Linked DNA regions of Homo sapiens: regions 2 and 3 are each linked to region 1. Evidence: fine-mapped QTL for protein levels in blood plasma. A gene starts in region 1. Each other region holds a variant in brackets. All regions are shown on one strand. Distances are from middle to middle.

Region 1 (10,961 bases):
CCTACCCTCAATGATTCCACCTATAGGAACACGACAATAATATGTTTTGAACAAATAAGTAATTGAGAAAAAATTGAACAAAATGTAGTTACTCAAAATTATTCCATCAAAGAGGAAACCACTTATTTGAATATATAGTTTTGACATATTTAAAAGCATAGGGGTATTAAATTCACACAATATATTGGGATTAAAAGAATGGATTCCAGAACCAGACTTCCTGGATTAGCATCTTGGCTCTGGCATTTACCAAGTGTGTAATCTTAGACAAATCAGTTTACTCATTTAAAAAAAACATATGAAAGTAGTACACATTCATAAGAATGTGATGAGGGTACTTTCTGTGTGTGTATGTGAGTGTGTTTGTGTGTGAGTGTATAGTACCTAGTATGCACGAGCCCTATTCTAAGTTTATATATGTGTACATGTGTGTGTATAGCTATGATTATTCAGAAATGCTTTATTGTTTTAATTATAAAAAAACTACAATTATTTTTTCATAACAACTTTTTTATACTAAGAAAATCAACATATGTAGCCCATTTCATAATTCACCATTAGATACACATTTGCTGAGCAACTAACATGCCAGGAACTGCATCAGACATTAGATATTTAATATTTCTCAGATTTTATTTTGAGATGATTGAAGCTCTCTGCATGACACTTTTTAGGGCTAACTACTTAAATCGCACAGTCAAAAACCATTTCTGAGACTACTTTAATTGTGAAAGACTCTCTTCCTCTTCTTCACTCAACCCCATTTTTTGCCTTTATCTATGCAAACTAACATTTGCAAGCCAAGCTTTTTCTTATAAGCTTTTGGGAAAAAAAATTATCTCTTGGATAGGGATCCAAAATAAACAGTTCAAATAAGATAGGCTTTGGGAAAATGTTAATAAACTTGACTCTGGCAAATTATTTGAGTTTCCTTGTGTTTCTTTCACTTGGCAGGGATTTTAATTTGGAAGTTAAAAAAAAATGAAGAAAAATGTCCTAAGATTTCACACATGGATACTTTTATTATAAAATGATAATTTTCTTATAAAACCACAACTCAAGGTTGAAAATTGGGGGGGGGGGTTAATTTAAACTTAAATTATATAAAATAGATTGGACAAATAATGATATTGCCAGAAAACTTTGAATCATCCATATTTGACTAGAATCTCAGCATCTCATCAGTCAACAGGTCCTTACCAAATGTCTGCCCTTTTGGACTGCTTGCTAGGTGCTAAAGAAACAGTGACCACCAAAACAGACGCAACTCTTTCCCCGAGGAGCTTCCAGTCTTGCAGAAAACATAAAGTAATAATTATGAGCAAATTATTATAACTATCAGAACATAAATGAAGCACTTTTGGAATGCAGCCATTCAATATGATCCATATTTAGGTATTCTTCTTTAATATTGTAAAATATCTTTACCCAAAATTTTGGTGCCCATTGTCCCTAAATTCTAAACTTTTGAGAAGAAGAAATGAGAAGCATTATCCTTATTTCTAGTGAAGCAGAAGAAAAGTTAACTACAGCAATGTAGTGGTGGGAATAACAGTGAAGAAAGCTGACACACACCGTGATGGGTACATATAGGCACTGGAGATGTTGACTGGCTATCACTGCTGCTGTTGTTTCCTCTGGTTGCCTTGTCATACTTTCTTCTTAATAACAGCTAGGAAGGATTTTGCTAACTAGTGGGCTGCAATCATTAAGGACTTGGTGAAATTCCAAAATCCACAACCCCTAGGAATTTTCCTGGATCCCCTACTTGGAGAAACATTGTAAGCAACTTACAGCACACTAAATCAGAAAGGTTGGCCTGTAAAACCATTTATGTAATTCCTCTGCTTTTGTTTTGGGGAATCTTCCAAAAGACGTGTCTAGAGAATCAGATATAATTTGAGCAGAGTATGCTAACGTGGCTTCAACAATGATTTTACTTTTCTCGTAATTTTGTACTCAACAATCATTTTTTCCAGTGATGTGTCATGCTGTCCCAGTTGACTGTCTGGCCATATTTTGCCCTGGTGTTTGCTATAGCAAAAAGTGCAGCTATAAAATTATCTTCTTCAGCTTGATGTTAATTTCGATGAAATCTTCCAAGATGTATCTTTTTTCACCTCTAAATCTATGTGATAACAAAAGATCAAACAGTTCTCGATCATATTTTGAATGGGAAATATTGGTATCATAAAATAATTCAAGAGCCTTATTTTAGCTACTTATTTCTTTCTAGTTAGTCATCATAACAAATAACCAGCGAATGTACTTTTTTTCTCCCCTTCCTCTCCATAAAAAGTATGTCACTTGCACAACTTCAAGTTAGGAAATGGGAAGGGTCAGGGAAATCTCACACAATCCTACCCAGTTTGATCACACATTACCTCCAACAGCTAGCCTTCAGCTGTTGATCTAACACCGCCAGCCACACCCTAACTAAAATTTTAGAAGTGACTGTTTTAGCTGGGCACCAGGATACAATCCATGGCGACACACCCCTGATGCTGAATCTAGGTCAATGTGGTTGTCCACTTTGCAGCTAACCTTGCCCTGAACAACCAAAAAATAGATTACAATTTCTACACATAAAGGGACCACTCTAGAATACTATTACCTGCCTTGTATGTCTCCTTAGCATGCTCAACTAAACAGATTGAAGTTCCCACAATTCTCATGGGAATTGAAGCTAATAAATCAAGCAATAAAATATAAAGCTTTAGACATTTGTCTTACATTACATGTGGGGTGTCTGTATTTGTGGGAAGGTAAGGAATTTTCAGTATTTTGATTTGTATTTTTTCTTTTTTTATTTGACATTTTGCACAGTTTTTTCCTTTTAAAAATTTCACTGTAAGGAAATTGAGTCAAGAAAAATGAAAACAATTTAAACAAAAAGTGTGATAATTCCTCTTTGAAGCATTTTAATTTCATGATGCTTATTTATATGTCATTTTTTTTCTTTTTACCCTAAAATAAAAATAAATTAAAATTATGATGCATTTCTAGTTCAATTATTTCAATTCATTTTGAAATTAACTTTTGGCTTTTCTGTCATTCTCTTTCATGATCCTTGGTAAATTACCTGTATTTCTTTCTATTTTATAAATTTTTCTAATGGTCTCTGACTTGTAATACTTGTGGTGAACACAGAGTTTGACTGCTTTCAATTTATTTCCTAACTAGTTCTATTGTTTATTTTTTCTATTTTATAAATAAATTCATAACATCTGGAAGTTTTTTAAATCGATTATAAATCCAAAGACTTCCTATGCTGGAAAGAGTGACCTTCTTTTTTAAGAGTGATGGAAATACTGGAAATAATTAACTTATTGAAAATTACCATGAGTTCTAAAGGATACAAAGGAAATAGATTACTTCAAATGTGTTTTTCTGGATTAAGTGTTTCATATTTTAAATCATTCGCCATTTGATTCTTATTAATTTCCTACTATGCACAAGGCCATGTAATAGCTACGATGGAGTATAAAATGAAAGATAAACCTTAGTTTTTCCCTGGAGTAGCTTTCAGCCTAGTAAACGACATAAAAAGATGTAAATTAAAATAAACTAAGAGGCATAGGAAAGGTAAGGTAAATTAGAAGAAGAGCAAAATGATTTTAACAGGGAGGATCAGAAAGATTTTGTAGATTAGTTGATCTTTGGGTAGAATCTTCAAAATAGGATTTGAACATACAGAATGAGGAACAATCATTTTAGACAGAAAGACAGTATATGCAAAGGTATAGAAACCCAGAAATGTAGAGTAGGTATTGGAAAAAAAAAAAAAAAAGAGCCATTTGATTTACTAAGAAGATAGTTCTTGGATCAAGATGAATTGCATATCAAGAATTATCTAAAATAGTGTTTTGTATCCTGCTGGGTTTGGGTTGAGAAATAGAGAGAGTGGCTGGACATGAAATAATAGAAATCAAATTATATTAATCTATTTAGTATTATTATCCAAAGGTTAGCACTTTGAATAATCAATATGGCATAATTTTTATGTGAAGACTTTCTACTTGGACTAGTTTATTTTCATGAGTCATATGTTTCACCTTAATCACTTTATGAAATATATCTGATATCTATAAAATAAAGAGGTGAAGAGCAGAAACTGATCCATGGTCTGGGTCCTATATTGATTTTTTTAAGAAATGCTTATATTATTAAACACGTAATATTTTAAATACTATTTAATGCCATCCTAATTCAGTCAGTCTTCGTTACATTGATCAGTATTCATTATGTACAAGGGACTGTGTTTACTACTGTTCATGATTTTTAAAAGTGGGTGAGGGTAGGAAACAAAAAAGGTTACAAAGAGGAGTAAAATAAGTACATAAAGAAATACAAAACAATGCTTCTAAAACGGACATTGCCACAAGAAAGCCAAGACTCCAGAGGGCAACACTTGAATCCTTGGGAACGAAAGGAGACTATTTGCTGTGGCCTCCTTCCTCCAAGAACATATACCAAGAACATACCTAAATGTAGAGTTCTTTAAACATGATTTAATGTACAGACAAAAATGAAGGCTTTAGACAATTTAGTAGACAATTTAATAGTCATGGCAAGTTAAACACAGAAAGGTCTGTTTATGTCTGTTTATTTTAGGCAAGGGAGCCTGATGAGGAGGCTTTCAATTTTTGTGTACTTAAGAATTATTTGGAATCAAAGATCCTAAATCTGAGCCCCCATTGTGTATCTGAATAGAAAAGATATTGATAGGAATTAAAAATCAGTCTCCATTTGAAGCATGTAGATTCCCTGTTTGGCTTTGACCTATTTCATGTATCTATCAGAAGATCGTGATTTGGGCCTTCCTTTTATCTTTACACAGAATTGGCTACATCTGAAGAGCTGTTACAGCTGTGTTGGATATTGCTGAAAATTCCTAAGGATGACTCAGATGACAAATTATATTTGATAGAGAGTCTAGTGGGATTTGCAGAGTGGAGCTTCAACCCTGAGAATGATTAAGTTAACTGAAGACTCAACAGGGAACGCCTGAGCTGCTTCACGATGTGGCATCCCAGTTTCTGTGTCACCCCTGTGGTAAATTTATAAAGTAATCACACTATTCAGGAATGAGATTAGGTAAGGAGATGAATTTCAATTTCCTATGAATTTTCAAATATAATTACAATAATAATTATGATAGTAAATAAAGCTATAATTAAAATATAAGTATATCAGAACTTCGTTCAAGAGAACATGCTTACAATACTTCAGAAAGTTTCACAATTCAAGTAGAGGCTTACCAGTAGTTTCCCTTTCAATGATTAATAGTCTGTTATGTTAAATAAGATTTCAGGTGACATGTTTATGTCTACATAAGCAAAAACTCATAGCTACTTATCTACTTATGTGAAGCAACATTGATATAACAAATACAAGTTATCTTACATGTATATTAAGGAAGTTTCCTAGAAATTTTTACTTGCTTGAATTTTTGTCAGCTTTTAAAAGTATATACATACGTATTTAATTATACATATATATGTGGGGGGTATATAAACATATACACACGCAAACACACAAAAACACATATGTGAACTCTTTTGCATGCCCTAAGATTGTACTTCATTAAGTGTAAAGTAGTGGACTTTTACTTAAATACAATACTGAAAATTACTCAAAGATTAATGACAAGACAAAAATCAGAATGGTAATTTTTGTAAATTGGCCATTAACTCCATAACATTATCATTTTTTTCATCCTTTCACAATGCCTCATTAGAAAACATACAAAATTAAGTGTCAGATTTGTATTTACCACACTTCTAAATTGCGTAAAAATATCTTTACCACAATCAGTGATTAGTGGAAAGCATGGTGAAAATATTTGTAAAGTGTGCTAGTCAGTTCCAGTTGCAATGAATTATTTTGAGGGTCATGGAACCTCTTTGAACTTTCTGTTCAATCTTGGGATACTTCCCAGCTGCAAAACACAAAGACAAAAATTCAGAGCCTTAGCTTTAATAGCAAAGAATAGGTAGGAATCAAGATACTCAGTTTTTTCTAACTAAATTTTACTGGAACTTTACTTTACTAAATGTCAAGAAAATATGGATTTTGTACAAAAGTGAAAATTTTTAGTTATTTACAATTCCAATGAGTAATTTTGAGAGTCATGTAACCTCTTTAAACTTTCTGTTCATTCTTGGGATACTTTTCAGTTGCAAAATACAAAGATAAAAATTTAGAGCCTTAAGTTTAATAACAAAGAATAGATAGGAATTGAGATACTTCGTGTTTCCTAACTAAATTTTACTAAAACTTTATTTTACTAAATGTCAAGAAAATATAAATCTTGTACAAAAGTGAAATTTCCAGGCTAAAAAGAAATGGTTATTAAAATGGTTCTATAAGAAAAAAACAAGGGGTCAATGAACTCTACCTTGGGGACTAAGGGGAAATTAAAGAAAAGGGTCTTGAAGACTTGGTCATATAATCACTCAAAAACTGGACTATCATGTCCCACTGCCAGTGTAATTTGCCTCAATCCTGGACATATCTATGGTTAAATATGTTTAAGTCCTGCAAGTACAACATGACTTTTTCAACCATATTTTTGGCTCTACTATGCACATACTAGTATTTGTTCAAATTCTTTTAAAGGAAACACAACTCTTCAAATGTGGTTTTACCTTTATCAACTGAGTGAACTGATCAACCTCTCTGGGAATAATAAAGAAGACCTGCATTGTATTTTACAGTTGTATTGGTAGTTCTATTATCACAAGTAGTTTTTAAATGGCTTTACAGTGATTTGAAATCTAGAAAATGTCCCTAAAAATAAAGCATCTTGCTGGCTTCAAAAAGAAAATCACACATAAAGCCGCACAACAAAGGGGAGGGGAGAGGAAAGAGAGAAACATTGAAACATTTCTGTTCCATGTGTTTTCCATGGTGGAGATAATTGATTTTCTTAGTGCTGTTGTAGAAAGCGCTGCTGGCATTCACTGGCCTACTGAGTTCATCACAGCTGTGCTTGTGCATCTCTCTCAAGCTCCACTTTCCACTGAATTGGAAAAGATTTGAATTTTTGGTTGATAATCTGCCACACCCTTGCTTTGCCTCATCTTTCCAGGCACTCTCTTTGTTAAAGGAGATCCAGATTAATCAGTGCTTTAGTTGGTGCAGGTATTTAGATTTGTGTTAAAGCTCCAAATGCAATCCAAAAAGCAAAATGACATGTTTATGTGTCCTGGTTAACATCAGTGAAGTCAGGGAAGTATGGGAAGAAATGTGTGGCTAGATAACAATGAGGACAGCAGTTCCTGGATGGCATAATAGGATTCAGAAGTGTATGCATTTCACCTAGTTCAGACCCTGTATTAAGAAATGCTTTGACCCCGTATTAGGAAATGCTTTGACAGGAGGTAGAAAAATAGGATCTGGGACACAGAATGCAAAGGATCCTAGTGCAAAACCTCCATATTCGAGGTAGTGAAGAATCGTAAATCAGAATATCTGGAGAATGAATTCTCTAGGTCTCTCCTGAAGACCTTAAAATACAACAATCCTTCCATATGCAAAACATCAGCTAATGTTTCTTAAGTGAGTGCATCAATCATGAATTTTTCTCATGAGTATAAGGCTTTTATTTGAATAGCTAAGCAAATTAAGAATTTTAGAACAATAGTAATTTTATTTATAATGCCTAAAATAAAGCATAACAAGCATTATTTTAAAAATAACATTTCTAATTTTTCACAGTGGAAAATAAATCTAATGAAGAAATTCAATAAATTTCAGCTTTTATAGACCACCTAAAACAATGAGAGAAATCTAATATAGATATATGAATTCTACGTAGATACAAAGACATCATGAGAAAAACTATGTTTCTGAATTGGTTTGAACACAGGAAATATTTTTTGTGTACAGGACAAAGATGTCTGAAAGACAGAAAGATGCATATAACAGCCTTTCCCCAGCATCTCTACTGTGATCCAGTAGAAAAGCTTATATTCATGACCATTCTCAACAGTTACTTTTCTCCCACGCCCCCAAGCAGTGACTCTCCAATCTAAAATAAAGATACACAAGAGGTTGGTCTCGTTCTAGTTTTCCTTTCCTGTCATCAAATGATGTCATCTACATTGAGATGTCTTGGTTTGTGTCCTTGTGACTGAAGATATAAGAAAGCTTGGGAGGCCGAGGCGGGCGGATCACGAGGTCAGGACATCAAGACCATCCTGACTAACACGGTGAAACCCCGTCTCTACTAAAAATACAAAAAATTAACCAGGCGTAGTGGCGGGCGCCTGTAGTCCCAGCTACTCGGGAGGCTGAGGCAGGAGAATGGCGTGAACCCGGGAGGCGGAGCTTGCCGTGAGCCGAGATTGCGCCACTGCAGTCTAGCCTGGGCGAGAGAGGGCGACCCCGTCGCAAAAAAAAAAAAAAAAAAGATGCAAGAAACAAGAAAGCAAGTTTGCCACTGTCCATGCTTACAGGATTCATGTACACCTGGGAATATACATATGACATGAGTTGAGTGAAAATTTAGTAACACAAATTAGAAGAAAGAGAAAGATGAAAATTAGTTTAAAGGAGGTAATTTACTTAAGGAGGAAAGTTTTGCATTGAGGCATAAGGAAGTGACTTCCATTAATTGGTGTGAAATGGGGAGAATTTTATGTGCACAGGCATAGAGACGGACATGTTTAGGTGAAGGTGAAGAAAATTAGTTCAAGTGACCTTGATTAGAATTGAAATGTCCACCGTAGATTATAGAGATAGATGAACTAACTATGAACTGATGATTAGGGTGTAAAGAGATATCTCCATTGCCAGATATAGCCTTATACTGTGGACAAGCATATTTTTCCTGCAGAGATTTATCAAAGACCTATAAATGGTATTTGCCCCTCTTTCAAATATGACACAAAAATTACTGCTTAGATAGATCCAGAAATACATTGGAAAGTTTTGTGGATGAGGATCTGGAAAGTATACACATAAAAGTCTAAATTAGAAATATTTATACTAATCTTTAGAGTAATGCAGAAAAAATGACCACTTTCTCTGGTACTCTTTTGCTATTCTATGTGATAAACTCTTTCTCTTCCAGTTTCCTAAAAAGTTATGTCATGAAAAGGCTGAATTTTTCTCTAGAAAAATCTGCTCTGTCTTTCCCAGGCAGCATAAAAATTGGAAATCTCACAAGAAAGCACTCTGGCTTGCTAAAGAAATTTGTGAGAAATGGAAACAGCTATAGATAAGTATCTAACTTTTAGGAAGCCATTCAAACATTGCTGAAATACTTTGTCTTTTGATATTTGCCTGAAACTTAACTTCTAGGACCCAGGGTGGGTGGATGAGTCGAAGGGGCATACGGTGGCATTTCTTTCCGTGAGTCTCTTACAGTCTCCTATTTAAATTGAGTTAGGATTACTTCTGGCAAAATCCCAACATAAAAATCTTCTAGGAAGATCAGTTCTGTAAATTAGACATACTAGATAAATGGGCATCAAGCAGTTTTTCAAAATTATGCAGTTGTTAACTTCATAAGGGGAAATAAAAATGTATGCATTTACATTGTATGTATTAAAACAAGGCAGAGCATTTCTATACGTTCCTAAGTTATACAAACATATATGTAAGAGTGAAATATGTAAAAAAACTTTTACATAAGCAGATGCATACAAACTCCAGATGTGCTCTTTTTCTTACTGTGGGTTGTGTCTTCTATAAGGGAAAAAGAAATATTTATCATTTCTTTTACTGCTGAGGGGATGGGTGCGGCTCTCATATTTCAGAAAGGGGCTGGAAAGTGAGGGAAGCCAAACTTTTTCCTATTTAAGGCCAAAGCAAAGGAATCTCAGTGGCTGAGTTTTATGACGGGCCCGGTGCTGAAGGGCAGGGAACAACTTGATGGTGCTACTTTGAACTGCTTTTCTTTTCTCCTTTTTGCACAAAGAGTCTCATGTCTGATATTTAGACATGATGAGCTTTGTGCAAAAGGGGAGCTGGCTACTTCTCGCTCTGCTTCATCCCACTATTATTTTGGCACAACAGGAAGGTGAGTAGGTACTGATTTCAAGAAACTTTATGGGATTTTTGTCTTTCTTCTCCTCACAAAGAGGGGTGTAAAGGGGAAAATCAGTTGCCTGATTCAAGATAATTTCCTCTATAAGCTCCAGATTGTGAAACGTTGAACTGACCATGGCTGTGCTTTTTACATTACTTGAAAAATAATCGCGTTATGTGTGTTTTTAAGAGTTCTGTGGTTAAGATAAGATGTTCTTGTACTAACTTGTTTTCATGTTAAAGGCACTGGAAACTTTTAAAAATGGCTTTAAAATTTTTCCCTCCTGGATTGTTAACATCTTGGAATACTTCCCCAGGCAGTCTGGAAGTTATTGGTCTCTTGCAATAATTTTATGTTCCTCTTTGTCTGCTGGATTCTTTGTAAGGTTAGAATATTGAGCATTGTTTTCTGAATAAGAATGCCTTTCAAATATCATGGATTAAGAACAGTCTAAAGGAAGATTCTACGCATTATCAGAATCATTGAATATATTTCTGTAAAATGGCTACAAGATACCTATAAACATTCTTCAAAGGGATCAAACTGCTAAAATATTTTATTATTCCTGTTTTTATTTTGTTTCAAGAATGATTGATTAATTCATCTTTTCTAGTAGCTTGATATTAAGGGACTAATATTTTCCACATATTCTACGTTTTAACCACATTCGCATTAATGAAGAAAATATTTTTTAAAATGTTTCAACAGGAGGTTTGACTTTGCTGCAAACAAGGTAAAGATACTAGTACTGTTTGACTTCAGAAAGCTGTTTTGCTATATTTTCTAATAATTGCATGTAATGTTTTTCATATTCTAATTTCCCCTAAAAACACATTTGTCTCATTATTTATGTGAAAATATTCTTTTATTTACCATAGTCATGAAAATGCTGAACAAATTGGAATACAAACTTCCATAGAAA
Region 2 (11,192 bases), 1.4 Mb before region 1:
GTGTCTTTAGTCAAGACACTTTGACTAAACTAAAAGATCTGGAGAATTATCTCCATTTTTCACAGTTCTTCTAGACCTCGCCTCCCTTGATCAATAATAAGGATAATGTAGTTACATATATAAAAACAATAATACAAATAAGCATGACAACAATAGTTAATGTTTATTGAAGGCTTACGGGGTACCAGAAATTATTCTAAGTCCTTTATGCCTTAAAATTGCTTAATTATCACAGGGCGCGGTGGCTCATGCCTGTAATCCCAGCACTTCGTGAGGCCAAGGTGGGCAGATCACAAGGTCAAGAGATTGAGACCATCCTGGCCAACATGGTGAAACCCCAACTCTACTAAAAATAAAATAAAAAAAAAATAGCTGGGCATGGTGGCGTGCACTGGTAGTTCCAGCTACTTGGGAGGCTGAGGCGGGAGAATTGCTTGAACCTGGGAGGCGGAAGTTGCAGTGAGCTGAGATACACCACTGTGCTCCAGCCTGGTGACAGAGTCAGACTCCGTCTCAAAAAAAAAAAAAAAAAGCTTAATTCTCGCAACAAACATGTGAGGTAGGTAATAGTATTTTTCCCGTTTACAGATGAAGAGAAATGATTAAATGACTTGTGTAAGTTCAAACAGCAAATAGAAAACAGTGAAATTTGAATCTTGACAGTTGGATTCTGAGCATACAGTCCTAAATACTATACCACACTACCCCTCTGTTTCAGTAGTTATGTTACCTTTTATATATTTCACTAGCCATAATAATAAATATCCATTGACCTTCTTAAATTAAAAAATTCCCAAAGCCAAATCTAGTTATTTTAAAATTATATATAATCTACAACCCAGAAATTATATCTCTAATATTCTTAAAAAAGTTGCACTCTGCATTTATGCACCAGTAAATACTAACAATGATACATGTAATATACATTTTTTATTATACTTTAAGTTCTAGGATACATGTGCAGAATATGCAGGTTGGTTACTTAGGTATACATGTGCCACAGTGGTTTGCTGCACCCATCAACCCATCATCTACATTAGGTATTTCACTTAATGCTATCCCTCCTCTAGTCCTCCACCCCGCTACAGGCCCCAGTGTGTGATGTTCCTCTCCCTGTGTCCATGTGTTCTCATTATTCAACTCTCTCTTATGAGTGAGAACATGCGGTGTTTGGTTTTCTGTTCCTGTGTTAGTTTGCTGAGAATGATGGTTTCCAGCTTCATCCATGTCCCTGCAAAGGACATGAACACATCCTTTTTTATGGCTGTGTAGTATTCCATGGTGTATATGTGCCACATTTTCTTTATCGGCTGTATCATTGACGGGCATTTGGGTTGGTTCCAAGTCTTTGCTATTGTGAATAGTGCTGCAATAAACATATGTGTGCATGTGTCTTTATAGTAGAATGATTTATAATCCTTCGGGTATATACTCAGTAATGGGGTTGCTGTGTCAAATGGTATTTTTGGTTCTAGATCCTTGAGTAATTGCCACACTGTCATCTGCAGTGGCTGAACTAACTTACACTCCCACCAACAGTGTAAAAGCATTCCTGTTTCTCCACATCCTCTCCAGCATCTGTTGTTTCTGACTGTTTAATGAGTGCGATTCTAACATGAGATGGTATCTCATTGTGGTTTTGATTTGCATTTCTCTAATGACCAGTGATAATGAGCTTTTTTTTTCATATGTTTGTTGGCCACATAAATGTCTTCTTTTTAGAAGTGTCTGTTCATATCCTTCACCCACTTTTTAATAGGGTTGTTTGTTTTTTTCTTGCAAATTTGTTTATGTTCCTTGTAGATTCTGGCAAATTGTCTCTGTTTGCAGATGACATGATTGTATATTTAGAAAAACCCATTGTCTCAGCCCAAAATTTTCTTAAGCTGATAAACAACTTGAGCAAAGTCTCAGGATACAAAATCAATGTGAAAAAATCACAAGCATTCCTATACATTAATAACAGACAAACAGAGAGCCAAATCATGAGTGAACTCCCATTCCCAATTGCTACAAAGAGAATAAAAGACCTAGGAATACAACTCACAAGAGATGTGAAGGACCTCTTCAAGGAGATCTACAAACCACTGTTCAAGGAAATAAGAGAGGACACAAATAAATGGAAAAACATTCCATGCTCATGGATAGGAAGAATTACTTTGGCCATACTGCCCCAAGTAATTTACAGATTCAATGCTATCCCCATCCAGCTACCACTGACTTTCTTTACAGAATTAGAAAAAACAAACTACTTTAAATTTCATATGGAACCAAAAAGAGCCCATAAAGCCAAGAGAATCCTAAGCAAAAAGAATAAAGCTGGAGGCATCACGTTACCTGACTTCAAACTATACTACAAGGCTACAGTAACGAAAACAGCATGGTACTGGTACCAAAAGGTATATATAGACCAATGGAACAGAACAGAGGCCTCAGAAATAACACCACACATCTTCAACCATCTGATCTTTGACAAACCTGACAAAAAAACAGCAATGGGGAAAGGATTCCCTATTTAATAAATGGTGTTGGGAAAACTGGCTAGCCATATGTAGAAAACTGAACTGGACCCTTTCCTTACACCTTATACAAAGATATGTGTAATATTTTTTATAAAATCTGAAAATTGAAAGCAATTAATTTTTTTGAACATTAAATTCAGGGGTACATATGCAGGTTTGCTATACAGGTAAATTATGTGTCATGAGTGTTTAGTGTATAGATTATTTTGTTACCCAGGTAATAAGCACAGTATCTGATAGTTTTTCACTCCCCACCTCCTTCCCAACCTCCACCTTCAAGTAGGCTCCAGTGTCTGTTGTTCCCTTCTTTGTGTCCATATGTACTTGATGTTTAGCTCCCACTTACAAATGAGAAAATGTGGTATTTGGTTTTTGTTCCTGTGTTAGTTTGCTAAGGGTAACGGCCTCCACCTCTATCCATGTCACTGCAAAGGATATGATCTGATTCTTTTTCATGGCTGCCTAGTATTCCATGGTGTATATGTACCAACCACATTTTCTTTATCCAGTCTTCTGTGGATGGGCATTTAGGTTGATCGATGTCTTTGCTATTATGAATAGTGCTGCAGTAAATGAACATGTGCATGTGTATTTGTGAAAGAATGACATAACAATTTAAAAATTAATCATTGTGGACTGAATAAATACATTTTGGTATAATCATTTGATAGAAGACTATTTGGATAAAATACAGTAATACAGTATTTAGATAAAATACAGTATACACATGACCAGGACAAAAAATAAATCAGAGTAAAAGTTAAGAACAATATCATTTACCTAATTTTAGAAATACACATAGCTATATATGCAATAAAAGGACATATAGTTACATTTTGTTGTTTGTTCTAGAAAGGAGGGGAGAGGAATGCAATAGGGAAAGACTATAAAGAATAATGTGGCCTTCAACTATACATGTAATATTTTATATATCTTATATGAAATACTAAATAATACTGTATTTTACACAAAATACTATATAATAAAATATAAATTATTACATATAACATGGAGCAATTACAATGAAAATGCTAGTATTTACTAATTGTGGATGATTGCTACTGGAATTTTGGGATATTTTCCTTTCTACTTTTCCTCGTTTTCAAATATTTAAATTAAAAATAAATTAGAACATATACAACAGAAAAATATTAGACATTTTTACAGTTCATTCTTTCCAAAATGCTTAATTTTAAAAATTATAATAACTACCTAAATGAAAGAAAAAATAACCATTTGTTATCAAGATAATATTTGTAGAAACGAATTAAAAGTCCTTCAAACATTATTTAATCTGATCATTTTTATCACATCATAAAAAGGGCAGGTATTCTTTTGCTTTTATATAATGATGTTATTCTCTTTTATAATATAGTTTCCAAAGTCAATGTACATGAAAAGTAAAAAATATCTTTCCTGGTTATCTGCATAAGATGTGATAACCAAAAAACTTCCAATGTAATAACCATGTGGAACTAACAGCACTCTTTTTCTAAATGTACTGATTTTTCTTTTCAATAGCTTTTTCTCACAAAGCAGCTGACCGTTTTTGGCAAGATTTAAGAATTTTAACCTACAGCTCTCTTTAGCTGTCTGTGCTAGGCATGCATGGCAACAAATGCCTTCTGAATTTCCCTCAAAAGAAGCTTCTTTTTGCCTGTATTTTCTCTTTCTCTTGAGGAAAGCAAACAAACTTCATTTATGCTGTGCCTTTATTTTAAAAGAAAAACCACAGAATGTGAACTATGTAAACTAAATAAATTGAAAGCTATGATAACACTGTATGTAATCTTGACATCACTTTAAGTCTTGCAACATTAAATATAAATCTTGGAACAAATTATTTTGTGGCCCAAGAGAAAGCACACAAGAGAAATTTGTTATTTCCCTTTTTGTGTATGCTTTTGTTTCCATCTGTGAAAAATGGATATTGGTTAGGGGGGACTAGCAGACTAAATTTCCTGTTTCTTCCTGCCTTTCCCCAACTCTATGTGAAAGATAAAAACTCAGAACACGGATTTCCTGCTGAGCTTGCTGCTCTATCCTTTCTGGGAATTTTCCTAATTGAGAAAAAAAGTCCAGATGGAAAAATGTAACCTCCTTTGAGAATTCAATAGGCAATTTAAAAAGTGCTCAAACATTTGTCCAATCTCTTCTCCTAGGTTCTGGCACATGCGAAATGCACCTGATAAAGAAGTGTGATTGGTCTGCTCACCATATTCTCTTTAAGCTCAGATTTAATTAAGAAAAGTAATGTTTTACTTAACACAGAATTATAAAACCATTATTCACCAAAACGATTATAAGCTATTACAAAATTTAACAAAGTAAACACACTTGATTTTCTTAACAATGCCTTAAGATAGCACACAGGATGTTTAAATAACTTTACAAGTGTTAACTCCAACTCTATAATCCTTGAGTTTAACCATTATGAGGTATTGTTTCACTGAACTTTTTAGGACTAAGAGGTTTGCAAATTAATGATCCCTTTTTCTTTGTAGTATGTAAGGGATCAGTTAATACACACAAAACCTTGGGTGAGTGAACAAAAAGAAAGAAAAGACCATGGAAAGGAGA[A/G]GCAAAACTGCTGAGAATAAATTCACAGCCTTGTCCCTGAAAATTAACCCCTGTTGTGCGCACCAGAGTTTTAGAATGTATGGATTTCATTTAGGATATCTGCCTGGACCCCCTTCAAAAAAAGTCAAACCTCAGGGGACAGTTATCTTTGCTTTTATGGTTTCTACATCTCTCAGGACCCTGTTTGCTTCTGCATTGGAATGTTAAGTCTCAGAATTTATACTTTTAACCATTCTGTGTTTTATTCTTTAATGAGCCTTTAATTGTTTTGCTTTTATTTATTTTCTATATTTTAAACTGGTTTTAGGCTTTTCATTTACTAGGCCATTTATTTTAATTATTTTGTAACACATTCTTATTCATTTAATCTTTTATTGCTTGTATTCCATTGAAAATCATTTAATATTGAATCCTGTATATAATATTTTATTTTTAACGAATTTTGTTGTTTTCAGTGTTATTTTAACTCTTAGTATTTAAGTAATTAACTTGAGTTATTTTAACTCTTAAGTATTATTATTGGTGCTGTATTAATGTATATATAATGCATGATGATCATGTATATGAATATAGCATGGTATAAACCACAGAAGTTGAGCCTTTTTTCCCTTCTACTTAATAGAGCGGCAAGCCTTCTATCCGCCTAGGATGGACTACCCATCCCTTAGCAAAAATTGTACTCAAATACTCTGTGATCACCACATTGAATAATTTCATAGGTCCAGAGACAAAATTTTAACTGTCCTGCAAGGAAGGACAGTAGCAAATTGCATAAGAAGTTTGTCTTCTCATACAAAACCATTTCATTTTGAATCTCCCAGGAAAATTACATGTAAGGATAGGTCCATTTTACTGCAATCTCCCCACCAGTATACACATTTGCTGATTTCTGTCTCTTTATGAATTGAGTTTCAGGGATAATTACTTGTGGCATAGATTATCTTATCTCTCTTATTGATTAAGAATGCTTAAGGAACTTTTGACCTCAGAAAGAATTAAGTTTACAATCTATTCCTGCTGTTTCAGACTGTATAAAGGGAACTAAGCCCTTGATGGATCCTGGCCTGAGAAAGCCTGGCTGATTAGATAAGACAATCCTGCCCAGATTTTTTCAGAGTGCACAAGACCAGCTAGTAGTCATCTTCATTCTTTCCTTGATTATAACCTCTGAGCATCACAAAAGTTTCAACTGAATTGACTTATGCAGTTTCTAGACTCTGTTCATTTCTTTAGTTGAGAACAGAATTTCATTTTAGGAAGGTTTCAGTCCTGCAAAGCAGGTACAAATGTAGCTGATTTTCTCTAATGTGTTGTCCTTCTCAGCAGTGAAATTGTATATTTGCCCTCAGGTATATTAACTTGGGCATTATTGACATTTTAGAACAGGTAATTCCTTGTTGCAGTAGGTTGCCCTGTGCACCGCAGGCTATGTAGCAGCATTGCTAGTCCCTATACACTAGATGCCAGTACACAACTGCCCCTGATGGTAACAACTGAACATGTCTCCAGAATTTGCCTAACATTCAGTGAAGAACGGAATCATTCCCAGTTGGGAACCATTGTTCCACTTTGAGCCTCACTCTGAAAACCTGACTGCATCTGGGGTGTTCTACTTAACTGTCTGTTCCTATGCTCTGTGTCTCACATTCTCCCTCTGAACTAATTATCTACCTGTGAGCTTTGGGGCTCTCAGGTAGCTTCTCAGAAAAGTTTATTTGGGTATGATATATGGCCATTCTCTCAACTGATTTTCATTTCAAATAAAATAAAATAATAAAATAAATGCCAGTAAAATAAAATACTTGATTAACTAAGAATATCTGCTAATTATGGAGAATAATAAAAGCATAAAGACAAAATTTAAATAGTACATATTATTCATATGTATTTCCCAACTATAGGCATTGTAAAACGTTATTCCATATATTCTCAGTCATGGAGAGCTCTACAGATATATGTTTCTGTTTTTTTTTTTAAATGGATTATATTTTGTCTATCAGTGTGTGGTCTGTTTTGAATGACTTCACTTTTTTTTGTATTCTAATACATTATTTTATTAGCCATGTTATTTAATTGCAAATGTTTGATTAGTTACTAAACCAACAATCTGTTGTTAGAAAGCTGCATCTTTTAAATGATTATAAAATGTCTGAATTTCATAGGCAATATATTTTAGAAGGCCTGTATCTCTGCTACCACATTGGTATTAATAATATATTTTACTTCAAAGGAATTAGGCTGGTCCCAGCTTATGAAGTCAGCCAGGTTGTAGCCACAGATCCATGGACTTCTATATTTTATTACGTAAGTGGCTACATCTTCCAATGGTAGTATGATACTATTAGAAGATTTATCTCCCAGGGAGGACAATTTAAAAGTATAGAAATGTTTACCTGGTAATATTCCCTCTAGGCTACCACAATCTCATAAAAAATTTGTAGAGGCAGAGTAGCATTGGTTGAGTATTGACTAAAGGAGTAAAGGCGCCAGACGTGGGTAAATTTATTCTAAAACAAGACTTAGACCAGAGTACAAGTTCTTCTGAGTGAGGATTGGACTAACTTCTATATATAATATGTACAGTGGTATATTAAAATGTGTCTGTATTGTATTAGAGTTCAAAGATTATGTTCATGACCATATATCTCAATGATACCAGAGTATGAGTTCAAAAGAAATTGAATACACTTTGTCTTTTTTATTCTATATTCCTTCTGATCACTTGAATTTTCAAATGTCTTCTATGAGTAACTAAGTTTGAATTTTATATATATATCATTATTATTATTTGAGAATAGAGTATCACTCTGTCACCCAGTCTGGAGTGCAGTGGCATGATCTTAGCTCACTGCATCCTCTCGGGTTCAAATGATTCTCATGCCGCAGCCTTCCGAGTAGCCGAGACCACAGGCCTGTGCCCCCACACCCAGCTAACTTTTGCATTTGTAGTAAAGATAGGGTTTCGCCATGTTGCCCGGCTGGTCTCAAACTTCTGATCTGCCTGTCTCAGCCTCCCAAAGTGCTGGGATTACAGGTGTGAGCCACCACACCTGGTCTGAATAATAATTTTTATTCAAAATATTTTTTTTGTCTTTATTAAGTATATATTTGTGTTTTCACTAATTTTTTCTAAGAGGAACCAGAAAAAAAAAAAAAAGACATTGGTCCATGCTTTTTGGAACTCTGAGGAAACATGGCTCACTAACAATCACAAAGCTAATGGTTTTGTGATTATCTATTTCCCTTTGTCTAATAATACAAGACACATCTACAAAAACAAGAATGGTTAGCAGACAGAGAGTTTGACTGATTTTTGGTAAGAATCATAAAAATATTGCTAACAGATAATCTCTATTTTAGACATTTGAAAATAATTTCCTGTAAGTTTATAAACATTTTATTAAAATATTTTTACTTACAAGTTTCTTAGAAAAAACTTTAAAAAGTATGAAAAAATAGCACATATACATATCACATAGACATATTTATTAAGCACCAACTATATGACAAATACCGTTCAAGGATTTAAAAAAACAGCAAAGGGCAAGACAGATAAAACCACAATAAAGTGAATTCTACCAATGATCACAACTTTTACTCTGAAGGAGGATTACAACAAACTGAAGAATGTCTCACCTTTTGATATATCTCCTTTTAAAGCTGCTTAGAAATAAGTTATTCATGTAAAATTCTGTTTATTTATGCCTTTTAATTTATAGAGAGTCAGGTTGGTGTATCTTGGGGAGGTTTTCACTGGTTATTCAACATCTAAAATGTAAAGAAAAAATTTTATTCATCTCATATTCAGATTTTTTAAAAAAAAATTTAAAATTTGAATCCCATGGTGAATAATTATATTTTTATGTCAATTTCTAGTCACTTGCACTTTACAGTTTATGATAGTAAACTCCTTTAATGACACTTAAATTTTTTTTCTCAGTTTTATAGGCAAAACCTGGCAAAATTTTAAATTTGCAGTCCATTGAGTAACAGCGAAGTTGAATATTAATTTTCTTATTGGATATTTTTCTTTTTCTTTTGTGAATCGTTATTTATGTTCTTTGCTTATTTTATATTAGGTAAACATATGTACATATATTACATATGTTACATAAACTTACGTATATATTTTGCATATATGTATATATACACATAAGCTTAAGGATAAAATGCAATATTCTTTCTATTATTAGATACTATTGTCCTAACACAAATCTGTATAATGATAATAGTAGTATAGTAATAATAAACATTATTTAATACCTAGTACTGTTGTATCTTTTCAAATAACTATTTTAATCTTTAAACAATCCTCTAAGGTAGCTATTGTCACTATTTTAAATCTAAAGAAATTTGAGAATTATTAGAAAGCTCAATTAAATTGGCCAGAGTTTTAGTACTTACTGGCAGTAAGGAGCCAAGCATAGTTTAAACTCAAATCTGTTACTCCTTTGTCTGTAATCGTTCCAGTGGGCACTAATGCATCGACACCCACTATGCAAGTGATTAGAAGGCAGAGAGTAAGTGACATTTTGATTCGCATTGGCAAGGCCCCTTCTGTCATCATGAAATTATTTTTATAATCTTTCTTCTTTTATTATGTTTTTATTTCTAACCCAAAGGACTGATGTTGTTTGAAATAAGAAGTGTTTGGTTGGTTGAAGTCTTTGTTTGGAGAGGAGAAAACTGGAATGTGATCAAAATTTGTAGGAATAGAGAAGAAAATGGTGGTCCTTCGAATACTATGTTTCTTCAAATTCTATTAAAATGATTCATGCTTGCTCAGAGAACAGGGATTACTTGTGGTTAATTACTGCCCTCTGTTGACGACATGATATATAAATTGTAATTCATGTTCTAAAAAGAAAGTTAAAACTACAAGAAAACTCATTTATGAAGATTAGTAATTAAACCTCAAAAAATTCAAGTGCTTGCCCAAACACCTATATAGCTAGTTAATTACAGGGACGACTGAGACTCCAAGTGTCATAAGCTATGATTAGTCTCGTGTTGACTAAATTAACAACAGTGTTATTTTTGGCCTGAAAATATTTTCCTATTTTCTGAGACTCAAAAACAAAGGTTGTAGTACTCAAAACAATTCAAAATACATTTTATTCAAGAAAAATTTAAATACAATTTATATTCAGGTTAAAATAAATTATGCAGTACAGAAAAGTGGGAAGTGGAAAATAAATATATTTTTCTCACTCTCTACTTGATCCCAGAGGTGACAATCACTAACTGTTTGTTGTTCTGAAATGAATTCTAAATGCTTAGAATTTTTTTCAAAACTAAAATACTGGTCTCTAACTTTTTTAAAACTTAAAATATATGTCTTAGGGTTTATTCCATATAACCACATAGAGATATAGCTTAGTTTTTAATATGACTGCCTACTATTGACACTTTTGAGGATTACAGGCATGTTTAGAATGCCCTTAATTTGGAGTAACTTGTTATTTCCACATAATTAAATTCAGGTTATGCGTTATCTTCTAGGATTATTACAAAAGTGAGGTTGTTTTGTTCTCATTTCCTTCCACCAGGGGGCACTTCATTTTGGTTTGTCTCGATCAATGTTCACTTCGATCACTGGATTAAGGTGTTTCAGGCTTTTTCATTGAAAGCTACCCCATTTTCCTGCTTCTGTGTACAAGAAGGATTTGAGTGGCAAAAGTGCTCAGCTAAGATAAAAAATAAGTAATTACCCCGTCAAATCCTTTGTCCCAAGTAACAGGAATAATGGAATGGATCATAGAATGTTAAGCATTATTTTCCCAAAAGTGCTGAGTGTCCTAGTTTGATTCTAATTCCTTTCTAAAGGAACATACAAATAAATGAGGTATTTGTACCAGTTGTACAAGGAGGGGAAAGAACCTTTTCCTATATACGACAATTCATTTAACTCAAATTTGTTAATATATAAGTCTATAAACAACACAGAAAGTATAATCATGGTTCTTTCTATTGGCAGCTAGGTGAATATTAGAACTGATGATGGTTTTGTTTTTCTTAAAACATTTACTAAGACATAGTCATTTTTAAATAATATTAAAGTTTCGGTTTCATTTGGCTATTTTAAATTTT
Region 3 (11,192 bases), 1.1 Mb before region 1:
ATCACGAGGTCAGGAGATCAAGACCATTCTGGCTAACACAGTGAAACCCCGTCTCTACTAAAAATACAAAAAAATTAGCCGGGCCTGGTGGTGGGCGCCTGTAGTCCCAGCTACTCGGGAGGCTGAGGCAGGAGAATGGCATGAACCTGGGAGGCGGAGCTTGCAGTGAGCGGAGATCGCGCCACTGCACTCCAGCCTGGGCGACAGAGCAAGACTCCATTTCAAAAAAATAAATAAATAAATAAATAAGTTATATAACCTTACAATTAAATAAATTATACTAAAATTGAAATACATAGTCAAAACCATCATTTCATAATTATTTTACTACATTTAACAGTTATCTACGTTCTTGGATTTATTTGTTGTTGATGTAAGGAAAAAGTACCGTGTAACAGCTCACAAACTTCCTGAAAATTTAACAATCAGTTGTCAAAAGCTGAAAGGTGGTGGCTTCAGCACACCACTGACTATCTCCATTAATCAAATTCCTTCCCAACTCTGGGTTCAATGATGACTCATTGATAGCTTGGAATTGGATTTACACTACCGAAATAAGCAAAAACTGCAGTTTGGTATTTAGATAGCTGAAGATAATCATCATTCCGTTGCAAACCTATAGGGCTATTTCACATTTCTGTAAGCAAACACAGAAACTGTCTGCTAACTCTGAGTTGGCAAATATATGAAAACTCCAGTTTCAAACGTGTTATAAATCAACAGTTATATCATTGAATTAGCTTAATAAATTATGTAGGACATAATGTATGTTTGTTTGAATTCAAATTCCAGAGCTTGTCAAATAGCTGGGATTTTATCTAATAAATGTTGTAAAATACAACTAAGTCCAATAAAAGATAAAAGCTGTACTTGGAAGGCAGATAAAACTAACTGAATTTCACAAATGGCAGTATCACCAACCACCTATTATTTAATGACAAAATATTCATTAAAATATGGCAGGATAACTTAAATAGCTAAAATTGATATATAAGTAGCATTTGGAGTAATACTTCTCCAATGGACAGATAAAAAAATTCTTCAAATTACTCTACTAAGCTATGAGTTTTGTTTTTTTTTTTTCACTAAACTATGATTTTGAGTTTTATCCATTGAACCTGTATAAAAATCTTAATTTCTTCACAATTATCTTTACATATTGTTCTAAAGAATCTGATTTATTTTAGTGTTATTCTAGTTATAAGCATCTAAGTCATCATCTCACTGTCTATAACCTGAGAAGGAAAGAATCATATTTGTGACTTGCTGTTAAGTTTAATTATCAACCTGCTAGACAGAATTGCACTTACTGCAAGTGTAAAAGTCCCTTGTTAAGTTAGCCTGCTCTTCCACTCAAAGGAACACTGTCACTTCCAAGACTTGCCCTTCTAACTGCAGACTGCTGGATCTTTCCTTAGCAACACTTCCTTTTCTACTCTGTTGGGTTCTCTTCACTTATCAAAATTAATTCTCAGCTAACCTGGACAACACTGTGATGTTTATTTCCTTCAAAATGATTTGTACCCCAGTAAATTATAACCATTCAGATTCCTGCTTTGCACACAGAAAGCTATTCGTTCTTATCCTTTTTCTTTTGTTACTAATAGAATGCATGCATTGTTTAAATTATCTGCCTAAGCTTTTTTAATAGAGTAAATAGTACAGTATAGAATTTATTTTGAAAAATAAAATAAAGGGTCCAGGCTTTTTAAACATACAAAAATTAAGAATACAGAGTGGCCAGTTTTCAAACAAAAAAAGCATTGCCCTCCAAAAAGTCTTTTAGAAATAAAATTTAAAAATACAACTATTGTTTACCTACTTTTGAAATAATTATGATAATTATGTTGGATGTTAATAATAAATAAATTCACTCTAATTCAATTCATTGGCAATGGAATCATCCTATTTCATCCACCCACCCTCAACAAGTTTTGTTCCAACATTACGCACTAAAACAGAATCTCTTTTACAGAAGACTACATTGTTTTGGTGTACTGTTATTTTGAAACCAGAGATAGGAATGCAAAACAAGTCTATTTAGAATGGATTGTCAAAACAACATCTGGTTTTGACAGATTTTGCTTAAATTGCTGATTGTTCAGCATCTGAAATTACTTTCCTCTTAGTACTTTTTTTAATATGAACATGAAGTTTTCCACTAAGACATATCATAAATAAATAAGATTCATTCTCTTCTGGCCTTTTCAAATGTGAATTAATTCAAAGACTCTTAAACAGAAGAAAAAGAACACTAGATCATATGCCTATTACACAAGTATCTAAAACCTCTAGGGTCAAACTTGGAAATCTGTTCTTTTTTCTCATGTGAATAAATCTAGTTTAAATGTGTGTGTGTGTGTGTGTGTGTGTCTTTATTCACTTTTTACATTCATATTAATTTCAATTTATTGAAATAAAGATATTAGCAGGATATTTGTATTATCTTTTCATACTACAGTTTTTCTGCTTAACACACCAATAAAATAGATGTTGCTCACTGACAGTGTACCATAGCCACTTAGAGTGTGCAAAATTTGCATGCATTTAGTTATCTGAACCTATAAATATATGAAAAAATAAGCACTGTCTTGGTTTTTATTTCCATTATAGACAGCAAAAAAAGATATAAATAGGGCCATGGTACAATGATTTAATTATAAGAGGAAAAAGCTTTATCACTGGAGAAACACTTGTGAAGTTTACAACCCTGAGACACAGGCCTCCCAAAAGATCGAGTTTTAATCAGCTTATGGAAGGCTCCCATTCTACCACACTATTTTACCATACCAACGGTGCTTTCATATGATAGCTGTGGGTTCTAAAGCTGAACTAGCTGTAACATACAGACTATCTAGAAGAGGTACTTAGGAAAAGCCCAAAGTCAAGAGCATAGCTAAAAACAAAGACACTAAAGGAATTTGAAGACTCTAGAACTGCAATAAAAATAAAGAATACCTTTCTTGGGTTCATCAGTAGACATAACACAGCCAAGGAAATAAGCAGTGAGCTTGAAGGTAACTTAATAGAAGCTTCCTAAACTGAAAGGCAAAGAGAAAAGGAATTGAAAAAAAAATGAATATGAATATTCACAATAATTTCAGAGGATGTAATATATGTGTGAACATAATATCAGAAGAAGAAACAAACAAACAAAAAAACAGAAGAAACGGAGAGGAAGAAATATTTGAAATAGTAATGGCCAAGAACTTTTAAAAATTAGTGGTAGACACCAAGTCACAGATGCAGCAAGTTCAGAGAACATCAAGCCGAATAAAAACCAAAAACCCCACAGGTGGGCGTGTCATTAAAACTGCAGAAAAATAACAAAGAAAAAACAAATTCTTACAAGAAGCCAAAGGAAAATACACCTTACTTATAGAGAAACAAGGATAAGAATTATAATAGCCTTTTGTGCTACAATTAAAAAGACACTTGGTCTTTATCCCTCGTTCCTGGCACAGAGCTGCTAAATCCCTTGGAATTTCCTGAGTGATAAGACTTTGTTATGCTAGCGAGGTTACACATATGAAATATATTGTATTTTATATGCACACACGTATTTACATGTATTTATTTGTATATATATGTGTATGTATGCATATACACATATACACGCACATACACGCACACACATTTTTTTTTAAACCAAGTCTCCCCTTTGTTAATTGAGTACTATTTCTTCACATCTACTGTCTTTGGTCTGGAACTGCCTCCATATAATATATGATAAACATTAGTGAGAGTAAATTACTAAGATTTCCAAATAAGACTACGTATATTTGAATAAATGTTATTTTTTTAAATGATGTACTTAGGCGTTTATGCATTTCTCCATTACTCAATATGTTTTCAGACTCTTTGGTAAGCTCTACAAATGACTTATTACCAATATAGGAAATCAGACTGAATATTGGATCTCTCACCTTATTTTATTTTTTTTCTAAAGGCTACATGCATAGCCTGATAACCCAGTTGATTCAAATAACAAGTTCAAACAAAATTAAATATGGCTGTCTGAAAGGTAATTTTTACCTTGAAATATTTACCTAAATTGGAGACATTTAAAGTAATGCGCTACAAGTTTTTTGGGCTAGTCCCAAAAGTGAGTTTTAAGGTACATCATATTAAAGTATAAATAGGAGACACTTTGGTAGCTTCTGCCAGACCATGTTCTCTGCTGCATGCCTTTTCCATCCCTGTAGTTAGGGTCCCCAAAACATGATGTTTGTACTATATGCCCATGACCCCTTACAAGTGATCATTATAGAAACAGATAGACATCCACGGTAGGATGAGATCAAAGATCAAAATATGTAATCAGAGAATTCTAAGTAGTTGCATTCTACTATGTAAAAGATGCAAAGTTGATTAGTGTAAAAAAATAAGATTATAGAGAAAATGTCTTTTATTAGTTGTCAAAAAGACTTTCCAGTTCATTGCCACAGATGCTGCCTTAGACCTGGCCATTTCCCTATCCTTAGGTTCCATGATATTCTCCAGCAAAATGTTGGGGCTCAGCAAAATGATACCCCAAAGTATGGTGCTTTGACTTGTTGAGTACAACTCACTCTTGAACAATGGAGGACTTATGGGCACTAGCCACCCACACAGTGAAAAATTCACACATACATTTCGAATCCCCTAAAATTTGACTACTAATAGCCTACTGTTGACCAGAAGCCTTCCCCATAATATGAACAATTACCACACATTTTGTATGTTATATGTATTATATACAACATTCTTATAAGTAAGCTAGAGAAAATAAAGATGTTATTAAGAAAAACATCAAAAAGAGAAAATATGTTTACT[A/G]TGTATTAAGTGGAAGTAGATTATCCTCATCATCTTTAGGTTGAGTAGGCTAAGGATGAGGAAGAGAAAGAAGGGGGGTAGGTATTGCTGTCTCAGAGGTGGAAGAGGTAGACGAGGTAGAAGTGAGGCAGAAGAGGCAGATATACTTGGTGTAATTTTTATTTTTAAAAAATCTGCATATACAAGGACCCTTGCCATTCAACATTGTGTTGTTTAAGGATCAACTGTACTTTGCACAAAGGAAACAGCCTCAGAACCAAGGTCTCTCTGACCTTCTCCCACACCCGCTTCTCATGTTTTGCCCCTCTGCCTCTCCTGAAGCACAGAGAGGAGCTTTTCCTAAAATTCCCTTATCTGGCTAAGGAAAATTCCTCCAGAATAAATGCAATTGTCTTGGGTCCCGCCCTTATAATCTCACCAAACAGAAGATTAACTCTCAGGAAGGAAGTCTAGAGTTGACACCACACACAGAGCCATAGAAATTTTGTTCCAGGCTATTATCTGTTCTTTGGGCCTATTTATCTCCCCTAAAAATTATTTACTCTTCCTCTAAAATTGCCTACATTCCCCACTTCCCTCTTTCCTATGAAGAGGGTATTTAATCTTCAATCATCTGGCCCATCTTTGAGTTTTCATACTTTGTGTGACTCCCATTCACATGAGAGAGTGTTTTTCTCCTGTTGATCTGTCTATTGTCAGTTTACTTCAGCAGACTCAATTATCAACTTGTCAGAGAGAAAGTTTTAACTTTCCTACAATAACATAATAAATCTTTCCTTACGTGTTAGGTAGTTTAGGCTATCAAGTTGCTGCCCAAGTACCTTGACTAATTCTATCTTCATAGTTTAGGTAGTGATTTAGACCATTGCTATCAAACAGTAGTTCATGGACAGGTACTAATCCACAAAATATTTGATACTGTCATTGATAATATAAGGAAAATGTACTAGATTGTAAACCAACTATTTTATGACTTTAAAGCATTTTTTAATGGCAAAACTTTATCAAAGAAGGAAGTGGTAAATTGATTTATATTCTGGCATATGCTCCTTATCACCTTTCAAACCTATAATAAACAGACGACATAAAAAATTGAATTAGTAACTTAGAACTGTCTCATAAAGATAAGCCCAAGCCCAGACACTTTTTTGGTAAAGTTTACAAAAAATTAGAGATGAAATAATACTATTTCTTCACATGTTCTCCCAGAAAGAGAGAGGAAGCGAGGAATACTTACCAAATTATTCCAGAAGGCCAGTATTACCCTGATACAAAAGGCAGACTAAGATGTTACATGAAAATAAAAACACAGATACAAAAATTCTCAATGAAATATTAGCTAAGTAACACATAAAAAAGATTCTACACCATGGCCAACTGAGATTTCTTATGGTTATGTAAGGTCAATTTAAGATCCAAAAATATCAATATATGTAATACACCATGTTTAAAAAATATAGGAGGCCATTGTTTTGGACGAAGTGCCTATATTAGGCTGTAACAGACCAGACTAAAAAGCAAAGGACAGTCACGCAACCCAAACTAAGTTGTCTGGCCATCAAAGAAATCAGGAGAAATAGCCAATTTCCTGAACAGACCAGTTTAAATACTTCAATGGGCATAACAATGAAGTTCCCTGTGTTCTAATCCTTACACAAAAATGGTAGCTTTAAGTAACCTGATGTTGACTAATCAGTTATTTTCTATTGTTCTGTCCACCTGTCCCTGCCTTACCAGAAAAGCATCTTTGAAAGGAATAAAATGCTCTTTGTTCTTTGCTTCTGCTTTCTTCAGTTCTTCCCTGTCTAAAGAGCCAACCCTTTTGGTTCAGCTCATTGAAACACTTATTCTATTTTATGGAATGAAGTTTTGGTGCTTCCAGAATTAAAAACAAGGCCAACTGAAATACTTAAACTAAATTTGTTGTAATTTTGTCTTTTGATAGCCATTTTGGTAGAATAAAGGGCAAGAACCACATGATCATCTCAACAGACACAGGAAAGTATTTGACAAAAATCTGTCACACTTTCATGATAAACTGTCATGGAAAACTGGAAATAAAAGGGAATTTTCTAAAATTGATAAAGGGCATCTATCAAAAATGTAGGCCAGTATCATATTTAATGTGAAAGACTGACAGCTTTCTCTCTCATATTAGGAAGAAGGCTAGGATGCCCACTTTTACCAATTTTATTTAGTATTGCACTGGAGTTTCCAGTCAGTACAACTAGGCAAGAAAAGGAAATCGAAGGCATCCAGGTTGGAAAGGAAGAAGTAAAGCATTCTGTTTTTATTCACAAATGACATGATCTTTTATATAGAAAACCCTAAGGGGATCCACGCAACCCCACCCTTATCAAATCACATACACACACAACTACCTATACTGTAAGTTCAGCAGGATTTCAGGATAGAAGATCAATATATAACTGGTCATAATTCAGTTACTTAGGATAGCGCTAATAAAATATTACTGACTACATTGTTTTAAAAGTGCTTTCAAACAAGATGTACAAATTAAGATTTTGTTCAGCTATCTATTCATTCCAAGGAAATTTCTGGATGCCATATTTGGGAATATTCTACTTTAATCATAAAATTTAAGCCATGCATATAATATCTACTGGAGTTGTGTTTATACTATTTTTATAAAATTATATATACACACACATGTGTGTATAATGGTAAAATACATATTTTACATACATATATATGTTACCATAAGTAACATAGAGGCCAAATAAATAAATGAGAAATGTTTTTTCCTTTGGTTTACATCTTTAACATTTATTGACAAATACTAATTTTACATATTTATATGTATAACATATTGTTTTGAAATAATATATGTTGCAAAATAGCTAAATCTGTTTAACATATGCATTATCTCACATACTGGAAAGTTTTAATTATTAATTATAATAATGTTATTTGCTATAATTGACTATAATTCAAAGTCTTGCTAAAATATTCACTTTGGTCCTTAAAAACAGCTCTTTTTTATATTTTGAGAACTATCACTTTCATTTTTATTACTAGAACAGGAAGAATCAATGTAGGGTTTATATGGAAGAGATTTTCAAGTAGATCAGTCTCTGCCAATATACATACCTCTGTAGAGTCAGCAACTTTCATGTAGACACATTTTGGCTCGGCAGTTTTTCCCAAGAGTCAGCACATATTTGGGGAAATCCATCCCCATTTTCTCTATAACTGAAGAAAATTTGACCCAATAATGAATCAAATAAAATAGTATATATTTTTTAAATTTAGTGGAAACAAAATTTAAAAGTGATATAATTGATAAGTAAGTTTTAAATTAAAAGGAAAGAGGCATTCAAAAAAGATAATCTTTCACAGTTGTATTTGATACACAATATAATTTTGCAAATGATAATACTTTTGTATAAATGAGGGCTCTATTGGTTTCATTAATTAGACATTCAATCAACTCGTTAATTTCCTAGGATATACCAGGTGTTGAGTTACTGCTTGAGATGCAGAAATGAAGAAGACATAGTCTTTGCAATTAGGGCATTCTCAATGCACTTGAAAAGTCATGAAAGAAAATCAATATCTACAATATTGTATAGTAAGTGCTATAGTATAGGAATGAATAAAATATGATGGGAGCAGAAGTAAAACTGGGTATGAACAACAGTGCTCTTGAAGGAAATTTCCAGAAAGATTTGGAAATGGTTACAAGAGATAAAAAACGTAAAACAAAGCTACAATAAAAAGCATGGGTCAAGTAGATGTAGAAGAAGATTATTTCCAGATAGAAGTAACAGAATATGGAAAACTAAAGAGATAACCACACCTCCTCCAATCATTTAAGCTATGCCTACTCATATACTCAACTGAACGAAAGGGTGATTTACACACACCAACCATTTTCATGTTCATTAGACTGGACCTTCACAGGTGTTCTACGTAGTTCCTGCTGATACTCTCTTTACTTTGTGAATTTGTGGTCCTATTTTGCTTCTGGCCAATATATTTAAATAATTCTGTCTCCCCATCTTATTCAGCTTGGCCAAGAAAGTTGGCTCTTCAGAACCCAGCCCAACAGTGTTTGTCACCCCAGGAAAACTTGGTATTAACATTCCTGTGAGAAAAGTGGTAGTAGATGGAATGGGTGTAGGAGAGTGGGAGATGTATTAGTTGTATTAGCCGAGCGCATGCAGCTGGTAAATATTTACATATCCAAGACTGGGGAATTTATGAAGAAAAGGTGTCTTAATGGACTCACAGTTCCAGGTGGCTGGACAGGGCTCACAATCATGATGAAAGGCTAAAGGCATGTCTTACATGGTTGCAGACAAGAGAAAATGAGAGCCAAGTGAGAGGGGTTTCCCTTTATAAAACCATCAGAGCTTGTGAAACTTATTCACTACCAAGAGAAAGCATGGGGAAAACTCCCCTATAATTCAATTATCTTCCACCAGGTCCCTCCCACAACACGTGGGAATTATGTGAACTGCAATTCAAGATGAAATTTGGGTGGGGACATAGCCAAACCCTATCTTTCTGCCCCGTCCCCTCCCAAATATCATGCCCTCACATTTAAAAACCAATCATGCCTTCCCAACAGTTCCCCAAAGTCTTAACTTATTTCAGCATTAACTCAAAAGTCCACAGTCCAAAGTCTCATCTGAGACAAGGCAAGTCCCTTTCACCTATGAGTCCGTAAAATCAAAAGCTACTTACTTCCTAGATACAATAGACCTACAGGCATTGGATAAATACACCCATTCCAAATGAGAAAAACTGGCCAAAACAAAAGGTCTAAAGGACCCAAACAAGTCCAAAATCCTGTGTGGCAGTCAAATCTTAAAGCTCCAAAATGATCTCCTTCAACTCCATATCTCACATCCAGGTCACACTGATGCAAGATGTGGGTTCCCATAGTTTTGGGTAGCTCTGCCCCTGTGGCTTTGCAGGGTACAGCCTCCCTCCTGGCTGCTTTCATGGGCTGGTGTTGGGCGTCTGTGGCTTTTCCAAGTGCACAGTGCAAGCTGTTGGTGTATCTACCATTCTGGGGTCTGGAGGACTATGGCCCTCTTCTCCCAGCTCCACCAGGCAGTGACCCCCAGTGGGGATTCTGTGTGGGGGCTTCAATCTCACATTTCCCTTCTGCACTACTCTAGCTGAGGTTCTCCATGAGAGCCCCACCCCTGAGGCAAGCTTCTACCTGGTCATCCAGGCATTTCAATACATCCTCTGAAATCTAGGCGGAAGTTCCCAAACCTCAATTCTTGATTTCTGTGCACCCATAGGCTCAATACCACATGGAAGCTACCAAGGCTTGGGGCTTACATTCACTGAAGCCACAGCCTGAGCTGTACCTAGGCCCTTTTCAGCCATGGATAGAGTGGCTGGGACACAGGGCACCAAGTCCCTAGGATACATACAGCAGTGACCTGTGACCAGTAATACCACAGTTAAAATAATTTTAAAGACAAGGATCTCAAATTTATAGATGATAAATATAAACATTATACAAATATGAATACAAATATGATATATACAGAGAATATATATAATAGCATAGTATTTACATATAAATTACATATATACACTATTTTCTGTATTTTATGTTCCCTACAAATGATTTTAGAGTTTCCCTTTTTTACTTAAAATTCTAAAATTCTAAAATTTTATCCGAATTTGTCTTGGTGGAAATCTAAAAAATGATTATTCCCACTTGGCATTCAGTGTGGACTTTTAATTCAAAAGTTCACATCTTTTCTCAGCTCAGGATATTTTTTATGTTACATATTTTCTTTCTTTTCTCCTTTGTGATTGTTAATTCCCTGCCTTTGTGGCATCTATTAAGTGAATTTTGAAATCAATAGACATGTCCATGTGTCAAACATCTTTCCATAACTTTCATTTTGTTGTTCTTTTGCATATATTCTGAAGGAATGCCGTAGTTTTTTCCTAAGATCATTAAAACATTTTCAGCTTGGAGACAAGTAATCTGAGTTTAGAAATCATCTATGAATTTGAGATTCCTGTCTTTAAAATTATCATTTTAATTGTGGTATTCTTGGTCACAGACAATAAAATATAATTTCACTGGCAATAGCAATGGCATATAGTGATATACTAATGATCTTCATATGCTGTATAAGAAGAGAAGCATTAATTTCTCATCTAGTTTGTACATGTTCCCATTCCTCCTCTAAACAAATAAACCAAGACCCAATAATTTTTGTATCATGTTGGTTGTTTCACAATTATGTTAATCATAGAACTATTGTACACCTTTCAAATTTTCTTTTTACATATTAAGAAATACAATTTTCTCAATTTAAGGTTTCAAAAATGTAGATATTTTTTCTTTGAATGTTACATGTCTTAGAAGTGAAATA

Alleles and levels. Alleles are on the strand shown, and positions count from the first base shown. The strength of an association depends on the size of the effect and on how common the allele is.
With allele G in place of A in region 2, the plasma level of the protein whose gene starts at base 9,835 in region 1 is higher (moderate association).
For the plasma level of the protein whose gene starts at base 9,835 in region 1, G is the high allele of the variant in region 3 and A is the other (moderate association).

What was found. PIP is the chance, under the fine-mapping model, that this variant and not a neighbour inherited with it causes the effect. The UK Biobank Pharma Proteomics Project read protein levels with antibody pairs (Olink). The fine-mapping took linkage between variants from a reference panel, not from the people measured, so its PIPs are less certain.
Region 2: its variant is fine-mapped to the plasma level of the COL3A1 protein (UK Biobank, PIP above 0.99).
Region 3: its variant is fine-mapped to the plasma level of the COL3A1 protein (UK Biobank, PIP above 0.99).

The regions. Positions count from the first base shown.
Region 1 is chr2:188,964,539-188,975,499 of GRCh38, forward strand. It overlaps COL3A1 (collagen type III alpha 1 chain), which reads left to right and starts at 9,835. Exons shown (of 51, transcript NM_000090.4): 1 at 9,835-10,030. The coding sequence starts at 9,952. LOC105373791 (a long non-coding RNA gene) reads right to left here. Exons shown (of 3, transcript XR_007087614.1): 2 at 5,809-5,941; 3 at 1,920-2,128.
Region 2 is chr2:187,570,946-187,582,137 of GRCh38, forward strand. No RefSeq gene overlaps it. Among named protein-coding and RNA genes, the nearest start is that of TFPI, 22 kb to the left of the region's middle. The variant A/G (reference allele first, on the strand shown) is at 5,103.
Region 3 is chr2:187,876,234-187,887,425 of GRCh38, forward strand. No RefSeq gene overlaps it. Among named protein-coding and RNA genes, the nearest start is that of TFPI, 330 kb to the left of the region's middle. The variant A/G (reference allele first, on the strand shown) is at 4,816.